4 separate regions of the Homo sapiens genome follow, and regions 1, 3 and 4 are each linked to region 2. Evidence: fine-mapped expression QTL. A gene starts in region 2. Each other region holds a variant in brackets. All regions are shown on one strand. Distances are from middle to middle. Region 1 overlaps LINC00921 (long intergenic non-protein coding RNA 921). Region 2 holds the start of DNASE1 (deoxyribonuclease 1). Region 3 has its middle 15 kb from the start of SLX4. Region 4 overlaps NLRC3 (NLR family CARD domain containing 3).

Region 1 (4,161 bases), 390 kb after region 2:
AGTTTTCTAATTTTTCTATTTACCTGAATTTTTTAACTTTTTCAGTTTTTTTATCTTGGTTAGAAAGATCTGTCAGCCCCCGCCCGGCCAGCCGCCCCGTCCGGGAGGGAGGTGGGGGGTCAGCCCCTGCCCGGCCAGCCGCCCCGTCCGGGAGAGAGGTGGGGGGTCAGCCCCTGCCCGGCCAGCCGCCCCGTCCGGGAGGGAGGTGGGGGGTGCCTCCGCCCGCCCAACCGCCCCGTCCGGGTGGTGGGGGGCCGCCTTTGCCCGGCCGCCCCTTCTGGGAAGTGAGGAGCCCCTTTGCCCAGCCACCACCCCGTCTGGGAGGGGTACCCAACAGCTCATTGAGAAGGGGCCATGATGACAATGGCGGTTTTGTGGAATAGAAAAGGGGGAAAGGTGGGGAAAAGATTGAGAAATCAGATGGTTGCTGTGTCTGTGTAGAAAAAAGTAGACATGGGAGACTTTTCATTTTGTTCTGTACTAAGAAAAATTCTTCTGCCTTGGGATACTGTTGATCTGTGACCTTACCCCCAACCCTGTGCTCTCTGAAACATGTGCTGTGTCCACTCAGGGTTAAATGGATTAAGGGCAGTGCAAGATGTGCTTTGTTAAACAGATGCTTGAAGGCAGCATGCTCGTTAAGAGTCATCACCACTCCCTAATCTCAAGTACCCAAGGACACAAACACTGCAGAAGGCCGCAGGGTCCTCTGCCTAGGAAAACCAGAGACCTTTGTTCACTTGTTTGTCTGCTGACCTTCCCTCCACTGTTGTCCTATGGCCCTGCCAAGTCCCCCTCTGCGAGAAACACCCAAGAATGATCAATAAAAAAATAAAAAATAAAAAAAAAGAAAGATCTTCCTCACTGCGAAATTTAAACAAATTTACAGATATTACACTTCGTGTTTCTTTAAATCATCTGGGCCAGGTGCGGTGGCTCATGGTTGTAATCCCAGCATTTTGGGAGGCCGAGGCGGGTGGATCACTCGAGGTCAGGAGTTCGAGACCAGTCTGGGCAACATGGTGAAAACCCATCTCCACTAAAAATACAAAAAATTAGCCGGGTGTGGTGGCACATGCCTGTAATCCCAGCTACTTGGGAGGCTGAGGCAGGAGAATCACTTGAACCTGGGAGGCAGAGGTTGCAATGAGCCCAGATCACACCATTGCACTCCAGCCTGGGAAACAAGAGCGACATTCCGTCTCAAAAAAAAAAAAAAATATATATATATATATATATATATATATATATATATATGGAGTTTATTTTTTATATATGTCAGGCAGAAGTCTATGTTTTCCAGCTCAACTGTCAACAGTCCCAAAACTATTTATAAGTTGGGCCACCTTTTCCCCTTGGGTTTTAAATACCATCTTTTGCATATACACACGTCTTACGGAATCTTGTTTCCATTTACCTTATATCCATTCTTGTAAAAACATATTACTGTTCTAATTTACTGTATTTTCACAGCTTGTTGTTATATCTGTTACAATACATCTCACACCACTGTATTTTTTTCACAATTTTTTTGGCTATGAATTTTAAAAATCAACTTGTCAAAGCCCATTCTTAAACATCTTGCAGCCTGGTGCGGTGGCTGATGCCTGTAATCCCAGCACTTTGGGAGGGTGAGGTGGGCAGAACAGCCTGGCCAACATGGCGAAACCTCATCTCTACTAAAAATACAAAAATTAGCTGGGCATGGTGGGGCGCACCTGTAATCCCAGCTACTCGGGAGGCTGAGGCAGGAGAATCACTTGAACCTGGGAGGCAGAGGTTGCAGTGACCTGAGATCACGCCACTGCACTCCAGCCTGGGCAACAGTGAGACCCAGTCTGAAAAAAAAAAGAAAGTCTTGTTATGGCTGGGCATGGTGGCTCACACTTGTAATGCCAGCATTTTGAGAGGCCAAGGCAGGAAGATCGCATGAGCTTAGAAGTTTGAGACCAGCTCAGGCAACATAGCAAGATCACATTTTTTTAAAAATGTAAAAAAAAAATCTCGTTACAATTTCAATTGGGTTTGCTTATAATTTGTTGATTAATTTAGGAATGCATGATATATTTGTAATATTAACTCTTCCATCCACGACTGTGGTGTATTTCTTCAATGATCTGGGACTTTTAAAATTCTGTAATCCTATATACTTTTCTTCTTATAGGTCTTGCAAATTTCTTATCATGTCTGGTTATGGGTTTTGCTACTATTGTGCATGGGATTCTTTGTTTCAAATTTTGTTTCCTAATTACTCAGATTAATTTTCCAACACCTACCACCAACTCTTTCAAGGCAGCATGTAGGGGTTAGTGGTAGCAACTCTTCT[C/TCTC]TTGGAGCCAGTCTTAGTTGTCTGTATAAAGAAACCATTCCATGTTCCAGGACAGACTTTGCTGCCGTTGGGATGAATGGAGAGCAACATCCCGGTTGTCCGTCATGGGTGACAGCCTTCCTTCAGGTGACTTTGGCCTGTGATTTTCCATCCTGTTTGGGCTTCAAGTTATCCGAAAGGAATCATATTGAAATGGGTGTTTCTGAATTTCCGTGTCCTCATGTTTTTAGTTCTTCACAGCCTGCTTTAAAAATTATTCATTCTTTTTTTTTTCTTTTTGACAGAGTCTCGCTCTGTTGCCCAGGCTGGAGTGCAATGGTGCGATCTCGGCTCACTGCAACCTCCACCTCCCGGCTTCAATCGATCCTCCCGCCTCAGCCTACTTAGTAGCTGGGGTTACAGGCGCACGCTACCATGCCCGGCTAATTTTTGTATTTTTAGTAGAAATGGAGTTTCACCATGTTGGTCAGGCTGGTCTTGAACTCCTGATCTCGTGATCCACCTGCCTCGGCCTCTCAAAGTGCTGGGATTAAAGGCGTGAGCCACCGCGCCCAGCCACATTATTCATTCTTGCTTCTGCCTCTCCCTTTATCTTTCAGATATTAGGTGTAGTCAATAGCACTTAACTTTCTTCCAAATACAGTTAGGTGGACAGAATTCTAGTCCCAGCTCTGCACTGATGTGTAGAACTCAAGTCAGTCAGTTCCCCTGGAAGCCTGTGTCCTCCTCTGTAACATGACGGGGTTGGCTTGATGACTGCTAAGCTACCAGATGCCAAGAGACAGCAAAGCCAAAGGAAAGGCCTTGAGCTCTGCAGACACAGACCTTGAGACTGAATGTTGGCTACCTGACTCTTTGTAGTTGTGTAGCCTTGGGCAAGTCAGTGTGTACAAACTTCCTGTTTTCTGTGTTAAATTGAATATATCAACACCCACCTTGGACAGGCACAGTGGCTCCTGCCTATAATCCCAACACTTTGGGAGGCCAATGAGGGAGGATGGCTTGAACCCAAGTTTGAGATCAGCCTGGGAAACATAGTGAGACCCCGTCTCTACCAAAAATAACTTTTTTTGAATTAGGCGTTTTGTTTCAAAAATTTCAGAGAAAGGGACCTGTATCTAGAGTCTTATTTCAGGGGCAATCTTCCCACCTCAGCTTCCCAAGTAGCTAGGACCACAGGTATACATGATGGTGCATTCCTGTAGTGTCAGCTACTCGGGAGGCTGAAGTGGGACATTACTTGAGCTGGGGAGGTCAAAGCTGTAGGGAGCTGAGGCCAGGCACGGTGGCTCACGCCTGTAATCCCAGCACTTTGGGAGGCCGAGGTGGGCAGATCACAAGGTCAGGAGATCGAGACCATCCTGACTAACACGGTGAAACCCCGCCTCTACTAAAAATACAAAAATATGCTGGGCGTGGTGGCAGGCGCCTGTAGTCCCAGCTACTCAGGAGGCTGAGGCAGGAGAATGGTGTGAATCCGGGAGGCCCAGCTTGCAGTAAGCAGAGATCGTGCCACTGCACTCCAGCCTGGGTGACAGAGTGAGACTCCATCTCAAAAAAATAATAATAATAAATAATTAAATTTAAAAAGCTGTAGGGAGCTAAGCCATGATTGCAACACTGCACTCCAGTCTGGGTGATAGAGCGAGACCCTGTCCCCAAATAAATAAATAAACATACCCACCTCACATGAGGATAGTGAAGTCTAGGAAGAAACACCTATTACCTTGTATCCAGCATTGTTCTTGGTGCTTTGTGTGTATTAGCTCATTTAATCTTCACAACAACTCTAGAACCCCCATTTTACAGTTGATAGAAACAGGGACAAAGAGGGT
Region 2 (4,161 bases):
ACAGTCCCCCCGGGGGGTGGATATTTTCCAAATGACTTGAATGGAAAACCCAAGCCCCAGGGACTGGGAGGGCAGTGTGTGACACAGGCATTCCAGGTTCCCTAGGAGGGGGTGGAGGCCATAAGCGCCAAGCCGAGCCCCACCCTGGCCCAGGCAGCACCCACCTGTGAACCGGGAGAAGAACCTGACAATGGCTGGCTCTCGGTTGAAGGTGTCGTTCCCGCAGGGCTCGCAGCCATCATCGTAGTAGTAGCTGTCCACCGCAGACACCTGGTCAGGCCTGCGGGAAGGCCGGGCAGGAGGAGGTGACCCCAGGCTGGAAGCTGCCCCACTCCTGCTTCCCAGGAGGCAGGCGTCGCGTCCCAGGCGACAGGAGGGCGGGGGAGCCAGGCACCTGCTCAACCCATTGGTCCGGGACCCAGGCGACAGGAGGGCGGGGGAGCCAGGCACCTGCTCAACCCATTGGTCCGGGACCCAGGCGACAGGAGGGCGGGGGAGCCAGGCACCTGCTCAACCCATTGGTCCGGGACCCAGGCGACAGGAGGGCGGGGGAGCCAGGCACCTGCTCAACCCATTGGTCCGGGACCTTGGGGTGTTTTCACTCCACCCTGGACCCTGCTCTGAAGCCTCAGGTTCTTGCCATAGGACAAACTAATAGGACAAACTACTTCCCTGCTCTGTTGGGGCCCTCCCAGGTGAGGGAGGGGCTTCCTGGCTTTCTAGACCACCCACCTGTACACGAACAGGTAGCGCTCCTTATAGCTGTTCCGTCCCAGTGGCTCACTGACCACGTAGTGATAGGTGTCTGGTGCATCCCTGGATTGAAGAAACAAAAGGTCCCAGTGGCGGGGGCCATAGGGGACCCCTCTGGCTGCCGATAGCGAGGCTGTGCCCAGGTCCCCACCCTTGGGGCCCAAGTGAAGTGAGGCTGTGCCGTGGACGAGATGTCACCTTCCTATGACCCTGCCACTGTCACCCACTGATTGAGGTTGTCCAGCAGCTTCCCCACGGCAGTCAGGTGGCTGTCTCTGACCTCCTGGACCAGGGCGATGTCATAGCGGCTCAGGATCTGGGGGCAGGGCCACAGTGGTGCTGAGCAGGGCTGGTGCCACCCAGGGACCCTACAGCGCCACAAAGGGAGCCACAGCTGATGCTCGTGGCATTGCTCGGTTTAACCGCAGCCTCATGTTTCTGCCTGGGCTCCTGCTGCCAGCCAGGGACAGCACAGCAGGGATGAGGACCTTGGTCCACAGCCAAGAGCCTGTTCCACCGTGCTGGGAGCAGTGGTGCTCAGTACCCCACACCCGACACCCTGTGGCTCCATAGGGCTGGCCCTGCCCACCAGCCCTAGACTCCAGAGCTCCTCTGCTTTTGGGGGGAGGCTGCCCTGGCCTCACCTGCACAATGTAGCTGACGAGGGTGGCATTGGACATCTTGGTCTCCCCAAATGTCTGGATGTTGAAGGCTGCGATCTTCAGGGACACGGCCCCCTGCAGTAGGGCCGCCAGTGCCAGCAGCGCCCCCAGCAGCTTCATGCCCCTCATCCTGGGAGAGCACAGGGCACAGAGACATAACAGAAGTGAGACGTCATCCCTGCCACAGCACTCCAGCCTTCTGGAGCCCAGCTGGCAGGGGCTGGTGGAGCTCAAGGTCAGGGGGACGCAGGCGGGGGAAACCCTTTCCTACAACGTCCAGAAAGCCAAACAGCTGGCACCACGTAGAGGACCCCGAGTCACTCCTCCATCCACCAGAAAACCCGCCCGGGAGGGACGCTGGAGCCTCCGCCTCACTCGCTGCTGGAGGATGAGACTCTAAGCCTCCCTCCCTGCTCCAAACCGGCCAGTCACCCAGAGGCACTCCACCTGGTGCTCACCTGAGATGATGGTGATGTCCTCAGAGATGACGAGAATGCTGTCAAGAATCTGGAATATCCTTTGATGACAATTTTCTCCTTTTGCTGCTTAAAGAAAAAAAAGTAGTCTATGAAGAAAGGTCTCTGAAGAAGCACTTCAAGGCCCTGGCAGTGCTGCTGGGCTCCGGATCCTGCACAGGCAGTGCGTGTCTGGGAGTTTTAAAAGTTCAGGCAGCTGTGACCTTCCCTGGGGCAAATGTGAGCCGTCACCTGAGAGTGCAGAAAACAATGGCTCTGTGTGGCTTTCCGCATAGGTGGGTTGCTAGCACGTGTTTCTTTCTGTAAGCACAGGTTTCTTGCTGCTGTAAAAACTGCACCTGATAATCACGTTTGCACTTAGTTTTAAAATGTCTGATAACAAGGCCAAAGGTTCCTATCCCGTGTCCCTTGCACGTGTGGTGGCCCCCATCTTCCAGGATAGGGCAGGGATGGGCCAGGTATGTGCGGGAGGGTGGGGCTGGGCTCCAGTCTCCCTGTCTCTTGTCTGGGGGCCCCAAGGTCACTTTGGACAAAGAGGCCAAAGCCACATCCAAAGTTGCAAATGGAGCCCCCTGGTGGCTGACAGCCATGACTGCTCTGTGGCCCAGGACACGCCTGCCTTCCTGATTCATCGCCATCAGGTGCAGGCAACTCTGCAGGAGGCTGGGGAGCTCGGAACAAGCAGTGGTGGGGGCCTGCAGCACCAGCGCCGTGGGGCCAGGACAGGTGGGGCCTGCAAAGCCCACCCCAATTGCCAGCCAAGCAGTGGGGAGCCTTCTTGAGGTAGACAATAGGCTGTGTGTTTAGGCCCAGGGGATCCCGAGTGACCAGGTCACAAGGGCAGGGCAGCAGCTAAAGGCCAGGCCTCAGGTCCAGTAATTTCTTGGTTCTTTTGTTTTGGGTTTTTATTGTTTTTGAGACAGGGTCTCACACTGTGTTGCCAAGGCTGGAGTGCAGTGGCACAATCATGGCTCATTATAGCCTCAACCGCCAGGGCTCAGATAATCCTCCCTCCTCAGCCTCCTGAGTAGCTAAGACTATGGGTACGGCACCATGCCTGGCTAATTTTTAAATTTTTTTGGTAGAGATGGGGTCTTGCTCTTTTGTCCAGACTGGTCTTGAACTCCTGGCTTCAGGCAATCCTCCGGCGTAGCCAGGACCACAGGTGCATGCTACCATGCTCAGTTTTTTTTTTTTTTTTTTTTTTTTTTTTTTTTTTTGAGGCGGAATCTTGCTCTGCTGCCCAGCCTGGAGTGCAGTAATACTATCTCGGCTCACTGCAACCTCTGCTTCCTGGGTTCAAGCAATTCTTCTGCCTCAGCCTCCCGAGTAGCTGGGATTACAGGCACGCACCACCACACCCGGCTAATTTTTGTATTTTTAGTAGAGACAGGGTTTCACCATGTTGGTCACACTGGTCTCAAACTCGTGACCTTGTGATCCGCCTGCCTCGGCCTCCCAAAGTGCTGGGATTACAGGCGTGAGCCATCGCACCCAGCCTATTTTTTAAGTTTCTCACAGACACAAGGTCTCCAAGTCCTGAGCCCAAGCAATCTTCCCGCAAATGCTGGGATTACAAGTGTGAGCCACCGCACCCCGCCACTCATTTCTTGGAATCTTTGACTTTCCATTCGTATTCATTTCCTGAGACTGGTGAAACTACCACAAGTTTGGTTGCTTAAAATAACAGAAATGGATCCTCTCAAAATTCCGGAGACTGGACGTCTGAAGTCAGGGAGTCAGTAGGACCTTGCGCCTCCTGGAGGCTCCGGGCGGTTGGGGGATGCTCCTTGCCCTCCAGTTTCTGCAGGCTGCCAGCAATCCTTGGCTTTCCTTAGTTGTGGCTGCATCACCCCAGTCTCTGCCTCTTCTTCTTAAGATCTGTGCACCTGCATTTGGGGTCCTCCCAGAGAGCAGGGAGGATGTCCTTATCTCAACAGCCTTTACTCACATCTGCAAGTCCTTTTTTGCTACAAAAATCAACATTCAGAGGTTCCAGGGCTAGGGCACAGCTATCTTTTGAGCCACCCCTGGGTCTTGCCCACTTGGAAGGGGCTGTGCTGGCCCTCCAAGGACAGCCCTGCACGTAGCATCTGTGGTCCCCCTGGGGGAGGAGGGCCTGGAAGGCTTGGCAGAAGTCCAGGCGGGATTCAGGTATGAGAACTGCAGGAAATGAATACAAATGGGGTCTGCAGGAGGCCTCAACGGCAAGAGTCAGCAGGGGCCAAGGTCGAAAGTCAGGAAAGTGCTCGGTCTGGCCAGCTGGCCAT
Region 3 (4,161 bases), 28 kb after region 2:
ATCTCAAAAAAAAAAGAAAGAAAAAAACAGAAATGCACATTGAATGAACATCATACTCAATAGTGAATGACTAAAAAATTTTCTTCTAAGATGAGAACATTCACCTTTACCACTACTATTTAACCTAGTACTGGAAGTTCTAGCCATAGCAATTAAGAAAAAAATATATATCCAAATTGGAAAGAAAAAAGTAAAATTAATTCACAGATTTAATATGATATGTAAAAAACTAGGCCTAAACATTACACACAAAAAATAATTACAATAACAGAATCAGCAAAGCAGCAGGATACAAAGTCAGCACACAAAAATCATTTGCATTTCTATATACTAACACTGAACAATTTGAAAAGGAAATTATAAAAACAATTCCACTTACAATAGCATTAAAAAGAATAAAATACCTAGGACTTTTAACCAAGGAGGTAAAAGATTCATACAATGAAAACTACAAAACATCGCTGAAAGAAATTAATGAAGATATAAGTAAGGAAAAACATCACACTTTCATGGGTTGGACGATATTGTTAAGACAAGATATCTTAATATTGTTAAGATGTCAATACTCCCAAAAGTGAGCTACTGATTCATATGTAAACTGAAGCAAAATCCCAATGACTTTTTTTTTTTTTTTTTTTTTTTTGCAGAAATAGAAAATACATGCTGAAATTCATATGGAATCTCCACGGACCCCAGATAGCCAACACCATGTTGAAAAAGAAAAACAGATTCAGGATTCACACTTCCTGATTTCAAAACTTACTAACAAACTGCAGTAATCACAACAATGTGGTACTGGCAGGAAGACAGACATACAGACTATTGGAATAGAGTTGACAGCCCAGAAATAAATCCTGGCATATATGGTCAAATGATTTTGACAAGGATGCCAAGACCATTCAACGGGGAAAAGATAGTCTTTTTAATAAATGTTGCTGAGAAAACTGGATATCCACATGCAAAAGAACATGGATATCATATCAAAGTCATAGGAAACAAAAGAAAACACAGACAAGCCAGGTGCACTGGCTCATGTAACACTTTGGGAGACTGAGGTGGAAGGATCACTTGAGCCCAGGAGTTCCAGACGGGCCTGAGCAACATAGTGAGGCCTTGTCTCTATAAAAAAATAAAAAATAAAATTACCCAGCCATGGTGGCACACACCCATAGTCCCATACTCGGGAGGCTTAGGTGGGAGGATGGCTTGAGCTAGAGTTCAATGCTGCAGTGAGCCGTGATCATGCCACTGCACTCCAGCCAGGGTGACAGAGCAAGACCACCCTGTCTAAAAAAAAAAAAAAAAGGATATGTCATGCAAACACTAATCAAAAGACAGCTGGACTGGCTATATTAATGTCAAACAAGCAAAGTAGACTTCATAGCAAAGAAAATTACCAGTGATAAAGAGGGCTGGGTGCAGTGGCTCACGCCTGTAGTCTCAGCACTTGGCCAACATGGGAGGATCACTTGAGGCTAGGAGTTTCAGACCAGCATGGGCAACATAGGGAGACCCTGTCTCTACCAAAAAAAAAAAAAAAATTTAAATAAGCATGGTGGCATGTGCCTGTGGTCCCAGCTCCTCAGAAGACGGAGGCAGGAGAATCACTGGAGCTCAGGAGTTCAAAGCTGCAGTGAGTTTTGATCACATCACCGTGCTCCAGCCTGGGTGACATAGCAAGACCCTGTCTCTAAAAAACATAAAATAAAATAAATAAAAGAGGGCTATTACATAATGATAAAAAAGGTCAATTCATCAAGACAGCATAATCCTAAGTGCATACGCATCTAACAAAAGAGATTCAAAATAAATGAAACAAAAACTGACAAATGAAGAACAGACAAATCCACTATCAGAGCTGGAGACTTCAACACTTCTCAATACATAGAACCAGTAGACAGAAAATCAGCAACCTGAACACCATCATCAACCAACTGGATCTAACTGACATCTAGAGGACACTCCACCTAACAACAGAGAAATATATAGTGTTTTCAAGTGTTCAAGCTTGGAGCACTCAAGATGGACTATATTCTAAGCCATAAAAGTCACAAAACAAATTTTTAAAAATTGAAATCATATAAAGTATGATCTCTGACCATAATGGAATTAAACTAGAAACCAGTAACAGAAAAATGAGGGAACTCTCCAAACACTTGATATTAAGCAACATACTTCTAAATAACCATGGCTCAAACAGGAAGTCCTTACCACACTAGCTATTGTCTAGCAGTTATCTTCATTTTGTTCATGCTGCTGAGTTTAGTGATC[A/G]CTCACTGTGGTTTAATTTGCATTTTCTTTGACTAAATAAGTTGAACACTTCTTCATATACCTGTTGGCCACTCAAGTCTCTTGCCTGTTTTTCTATTTTTTTTTTTTTAGGATTTCTTTAGATATTAATCCTTTGTCATTGTGCATATGATACTAGTCCCGTGCACATCACACACATCTTCTAGTCTGTGGTATCTTTACACCCTTTTTGAGATAGAGTCTTGCTCTGCTGCCCAGGCTGGAGTACAGTGGCAGAATCACGGCTCACTATAGCCTTGGCTTCTCAGGCTCAAGTGATCTTCCCACCTCAGCTTCCAGAGTAGCTGGGACTACAGGCGCATGCCCTGACACCCGGCTAATTTTTAAATTGTTTGTTCAGACAGGGTCCCACTATTTTGCTCAGTCTGATCTCAAACTCCTGGGCTAAAGCGATCCTTCTGCCTCGGCCTCCTGAAGTGTTGGGATTACAGGCATGAGCCACCATGCACAGCCCTTTACACCCTCTTAATGGTGCCTTATAAAGGTTCTTAATTTTAATGTCACATAATTTGTCACTTCTTTATGGTTAGTGGTTTGTGTCCCTGTTTAAGAATTTTTTGCCTACCCCAAAGTCATGAAGATTCCCTCCTATGCCTTTTTTAGCACCTTTATTCTATATTGGCCGTTTCATTTATTTATTTATTTTTTGACACAGGGTCTTGCTCTGTTGCCCAGGCTGGAGTGCAGAAAGGCGATTATGATTCACTGCAGCCTCGACCTCCTGGGCTCAAGCGATCCCATTTCAGCCTACTGAATAGCTGGGAGTAGAGGCATGTGCTACCATGCTGGCTAATTTTATTTAAACAATTTTTTTTTTGCAGCGATGGGTCTCACTACACAGCCCAGGCTGGCCTTGAACCATGGGCTCAGGCAATTCTCCCTTCTCAGTCTCCCAAGTTTCAGAGACTACAAGAATATAACATCATGCCTAGCCCCATTAGTTTGTTTTATTGTTTTTTGTTTTGGAGACAGAGTCTCACTCTGTTGCCCAGGCTGGAATGCAGTGGTACGATCTCGGCTCACTGTAACCCCTGCCTCCAGGGCTCAAGCAATTCTCCTGCCTCAGCCTCCCAAGTAGCTGGGATTACAGGCATGCACCACCACACCTGGCTAACTTTTGTATTTTAGTAGAGACGGGGTTTCACCATGTTGGCCAGGCTGGTCTTGAACTCCCAACCTCAGGTGATCCGCCCGCCTAGGCCTCCCAAAGTGCTGGGATTACAGGAGTGAGCCACTGCCCCCGGCCCCCATTAAGTTTTAATAAGAAAAACTGCAGGCTGGGCATGATGGCTCACACCTGTAATCTCAGACTGTGAGAGGCTGGGGCAAGCAAATCACTTGAGCCCAGTTCGAGACGAGCCTGGGCAACATGGCAAAACCCTATCTCTACTAAAAATAAAAAATAAAATAAAAAATTAGCCAGGTGTGCTGGAAGAAACCTATATTCTCAGCTACAGAAATAGAATACAGGCTGAGGTGGGAGGACTGTTTGAGCCTGGGAGGCAGAGGATGCAGTGACCCAAGTTCCCACTACTGCACTCCAGCCTGGGTGACGACAAAGTAAGACTCCATCTCAAAAAACAAGAAAAGAAAAATTGATTGCAAAAAAATTGTTACACAATGTTTGCTGGTTTGGGCCACCACTGGGAATGGCTTTGCCTGTCTAGATGTTCGGATGCTGAGCACAGTCCACCCAGTTGGACTGCTCCAGGTATAGTACACAGTGGCTGCTAGATTCAGGGTCTTATGGGAACAGCTTCAGCCACTGTGAACTCAGCCAGGGGCGGCAAGGGCATTCTGAAGGTTTAGAGCTCGGCATAAGGGACGCTAACCCAGTGCCTAGAGCACCAC
Region 4 (4,161 bases), 93 kb after region 2:
CAGGCTGGGCTTCCTCACGCATTTCAGGAGCGCAGCCCAGCGGGCCATGCAGGCAGAGGACGGGAGGCTGGACGTGTTCCTGCGCTTCCTCTCCGGCCTCTTGTCTCCGAGGGTCAATGCCCTCCTGGCCGGCTCCCTGCTGGCCCAAGGCGAGCACCAGGCCTACCGGACCCAGGTGGCTGAGCTCCTGCAGGGCTGCCTGCGCCCCGATGCCGCAGTCTGTGCACGGGCCATCAACGTGTTGCACTGCCTGCATGAGCTGCAGCACACCGAGCTGGCCCGCAGCGTGGAGGAGGCCATGGAGAGCGGGGCCCTGGCCAGGCTGACTGGTCCCGCGCACCGCGCTGCCCTGGCCTACCTCCTGCAGGTGTCCGACGCCTGTGCCCAGGAGGCCAACCTGTCCCTGAGCCTCAGCCAGGGCGTCCTTCAGAGCCTGCTGCCCCAGCTGCTCTACTGCCGGAAGCTCAGGTGGATACCAGGGCAGGGGGCAGGGGCTGGGGAAGGGGCAGAGGAGAGAGCAGAAGCCGTCCCCTCCCCACCACCAAGCTTCTCTGTCAGTCTCCTAGGGCTGCCGTAACAGAGGACCATGAACTTGGTGGCTTAAAACAACTAAAGTGTGTTTTCTCGCAGTTCTGGAGGCCAGAAGTCTCAAATCAAGGTGCCAGGAGGGCCATGCGCTCTCTGAAACATATAGGAGAGGTTCTTTCCTTCCTCTCTAGCTTCCAGTGTTTGATGGGAACCCTTGGCTTAAGGCTGCGTTACTTCAGTCTCTCCCGTCGCCTGGTCATCTTCTCCCTGTGTCTGTCTCCACATGGTGCTGTCCTCTCTTTTTTTTTGAGATGGAGTCTTGCTCTGTCGCCCAGGCTGGAATACAGTGGCGCGATCTCAGCTCACTGCAAACGCTGCCTCCTGGGTTCAAGCGATTCTCCTGCCTCAGCCTCCCTAGTAGCTGGGATTACAGGTGCCCGCCATCATGCCTGGCTAATTTTTGTGTTTTTAGTAGAGACGGGGTTTCACCATGTTGGCCAGGCTGCTCTCAAACTCCTGACCTCAGGTGACCCGCCCACCCCAGCCTCCCAAATTGCTGGGATTACAGGCCTGAGCCACTGCACCTGGCCAGTGCTTTCTTGTCTTAAAAAGACACTGTCACACTGGATTACAGGCTCACCCCACTTCAGCATGGCCCCACCTTAACAAAGTACATCCACAGTGACCCCATTTCTCAATAAAGCCACATACTTGGGGCACAGGGGGTTAGGACTTCATATCTTTTGTGGGGACACAATTCAATTCATAACCCCCTCAGAACCATCCAGTCTGATAGAAGCTGCACACCCGCTGAATGCTTTCAGCCTGTCCCCTGCCCGCCACTCTGGACCTTAGTGAGTAGGGAGGAAAGGACACAGGCTGAGGGTCATCCAGGTGTCCCGCAGAGGCAGGCGGTATGTGGGGTGGTGAGGACGACAGCCCGTGGAAGATGCCGTTCTGCACAGGAACCGCAGGTCTCGTGGGCACCCAGCCTCCTGTTCACTCTCACGGGAAAGGTCTGAGCACTGGGGCTGAGCGCAGATCTCAGAGCTGCGGTGATAGCGCTGCATGGGATGGAGAGAGGCAGAGGCCCCGGGCCAGGGCCCCCACCCTGCCCGTGGGCGGGTGGGACACTCACTGTCACTGCTCCCCTTGGCCAGGCTGGACACCAACCAGTTCCAGGACCCCGTGATGGAGCTGCTGGGCAGCGTGCTGAGTGGGAAGGACTGTCGCATTCAGAAGATCAGGTAACACAGACCCAGGGGACCTCCAGGGTGCCTATGGTCTTGTGGGGTATGGAACCCTCTTCCCATCATCCTCTGCTCAGCTGGCCAGCGGC[G/A]CTGCCACGGAGAAGTGTCTTTGGAGCATGTGGCTCCAGATGCAGCCTGCTTGTTTCTGCCCAATTCCAGAAAGTGCTAGAGGCTCAGGTGCCTCATCAGTAGGAAGAGGGAGGTGACCTGGCGGGACTAGACACCGCTGTGCACAGGCAGGTGTTTCCACAGCACTACGTGTGCTGACATAATGCCAGGCACAATGTTCTCTAAGCACCTCTCCAAGTTTGCTGTCCAACAGCATTCTAGGCACAGGATTATAATTATCCCCCCCAGACAGTCTTGCTTTGTCACCCCAGCTGGAGTGTAGTGGCATGATCTCGGCTCATTGTAATCTCTGCCTCCCAGGCTCAAGCAGTTCTCTAACCCCAGCCTCCTGAGTAGCTGGGATTAGAGGGGCCCACCACACCTGGCTAATTTTTGTATTTTTAGTAGAGACAGGGTTTCACCATGTTAACCAGGCTGGCCTCGAACTCCTGACCTTGTGATCCGCCAGCCTTGGCCTCCCAAAGTGCTGGGATTACTGGCGTGAGCTACTGCACCCAGCCAATTGCATTTTTAATTAAAATTTTAAATTTCAAATTTAATTTAATTAAAATTTAATTTCAAATTTAATTTTAAATCAATTTAAACAATTTTTAATTAAAATTGCATCTTGTGGCCGGGTGTGGTGGCTCACCCCTGTAATCCCAGCACTTTGGGAGGCCGAAGCAGGTGGATCACGAGGTCAGGAAATCGAGACCATCCTGACTAACACGGTGAAACCCTGTCTCTACTAAAAATACAAAAAATTAGCCGGGCGTGGTGGTGGGCGCCTGTAGTCCCAGCTACTCAGGAGGCTGAGGCAGGAGAATGGCGTGAACCCAGGAGGCAGAGGTTGCAGTGAGCCGAGATCGCACCACTGCACTCCAGCGCCACTGCACTCCAGTCTGGGTGACAGAGTGAGACTCCGTCTCAAAAAAGAACAAAACAAACAAAAAAACCTTCATCTTGTAATTAGACAAAAGTTCACATGGTGAATGTGTGCTTATGAAACGTCTCCTGGAATAACATTCCTGGATCTGAGAAACTACACACACTCGGGGTTTGTGGTTGAATCGATGTGACTGATCCTCTGAGGGTGGCTGTTGCAGACCTAGGGAGGTGAGTTTGGAGAAGAGAACCCAAGGGCTAATTTTGTTTTTTTTTTTGTTTTGAGACGGAGTCTCCCTGTGTTGGGCAGGCTGGAGTGCAGTGGCACGATCTTGGCTCACTGCAGACTCCGCCTCCCGGGTTCAAGCAATTCTCCTGCCTCAGCCTCCTGAGTAGCTGGGACTACAGGCGCATGCCACCACACCCAGCTAATTTTTGTATTTTTAGTCGATACAGGGTTTCACTATATTACTTTATTGGCCAGGCTGGTCTCAAACTCCTGACCTCAGGTGATCCATCCGCCTCAGCCTCCCAAAGTGCTGGGATTACAGGTGTGAGCCACTGTGGCCAGGGGTAATTCTTCATTCTCATACAAGCCTCTGGGTTCTGAAGTAATCTTTATCTGAGTTAATGGCAATTTACACTAATTCAGTAACAAAAATAAGGCACTGGGGAGTATGTTTAGAGGTGTAGGCTCTGTGTGAGTTTGAAGAAGTCATTTCTGTGCCTTAAGAGGGTAAAAATGGGCTTAAAAGGATATCTAGGCCAGGGGCGGTGGCTCATGCCTTTAATCCCAGCACTTTGGGAGACTGAGGCCCGTGAATCACTTGAGGTCAGGAGTTCGAGACCAGCCTGGTCAAACTGGCAAAACCCTGTCTCTACTAAAAAATACAAAAATTAGCCAGTCGTGGTGGTGGTGGGTGTGTGTAATCCCTGCTACTCAGGAGGCTGAAGCAGGAGAACTGCTTGAGTCTGGGAGGCAGAAGTTGCAGTGAGCCAAGATTGCGCCACTGCACTCCAGCCGAGGTGACAGAGCAAGACCCCGTCTCAAAAAAAAAAAAAGAAAAAAAAAAAGAAAAGTAAAAGAATGACAATTCTCATTATTAATATTTTTTCCTCTGTGAGCGCCTCCTGCATTTTTAGCACATGACAAAATAGCCAACTTTTAGTTTTGCTTAAAGCAGACTAGGTAGTGCTCAGAAATTATTCGGGGGCCAGGCACAGTGGCTCCTTCCTATAATCCTAGCAATCTGGAAGGTGGGGAGATTCTTTAAGGCCAGGAGTTCAAGACCAACCTGGCAAACATATGGCAAGATGCCATCTTTACTAAAAATAAAAATAAAAGTAAATTATTCTGAATGAAGCCAAAAATCTCTTCTCTGGCCACATG

What was found. PIP is the estimated chance that this variant, and not a neighbour inherited with it, causes the effect.
Region 1: its variant is the best candidate, but not a certain one, in a credible set for the expression of DNASE1 in T cells (TOPMed, PIP 0.81).
Region 3: its variant is the best candidate, but not a certain one, in a credible set for the expression of DNASE1 in memory regulatory T cells (Schmiedel 2018, PIP 0.89).
Region 4: its variant is the best candidate, but not a certain one, in a credible set for the expression of DNASE1 in whole blood (TOPMed, PIP 0.56).

Annotation. Positions count from the first base shown.
Region 1 is chr16:3,267,485-3,271,645 of GRCh38, reverse strand. It overlaps LINC00921 (long intergenic non-protein coding RNA 921), which reads right to left. Exons shown (of 2, transcript NR_033904.1): 2 at 4,079-4,161. Among named protein-coding and RNA genes, the nearest start is that of LINC00921, 5.8 kb to the right of the region's middle. The variant C/TCTC (reference allele first, on the strand shown) is at 2,327.
Region 2 is chr16:3,652,757-3,656,917 of GRCh38, reverse strand. It overlaps DNASE1 (deoxyribonuclease 1), which reads right to left and starts at 2,227. Exons shown (of 9, transcript NM_005223.4): 1 at 1,874-2,227; 2 at 1,398-1,545; 3 at 981-1,069; 4 at 733-816; 5 at 165-280. The coding sequence starts at 1,544. LOC124903631 (a long non-coding RNA gene) reads left to right here. Exons shown (of 2, transcript XR_007064954.1): 2 at 1-4,161. RefSeq lists enhancers at 995-1,522, 1,523-2,050.
Region 3 is chr16:3,624,420-3,628,580 of GRCh38, reverse strand. It overlaps a transcript of DNASE1 not described here. Among named protein-coding and RNA genes, the nearest start is that of SLX4, 15 kb to the right of the region's middle. RefSeq lists an enhancer at 2,488-2,587. The variant A/G (reference allele first, on the strand shown) is at 2,272.
Region 4 is chr16:3,559,316-3,563,476 of GRCh38, reverse strand. It overlaps NLRC3 (NLR family CARD domain containing 3), which reads left to right. Exons shown (of 20, transcript NM_178844.4): 5 at 1-468; 6 at 1,689-1,775. It overlaps LOC101929732 (a long non-coding RNA gene), which reads right to left. Exons shown (of 4, transcript XR_007064953.1): 4 at 3,888-4,161. Among named protein-coding and RNA genes, the nearest start is that of NLRC3, 16 kb to the left of the region's middle. RefSeq lists an enhancer at 1,115-1,615. The variant G/A (reference allele first, on the strand shown) is at 1,868.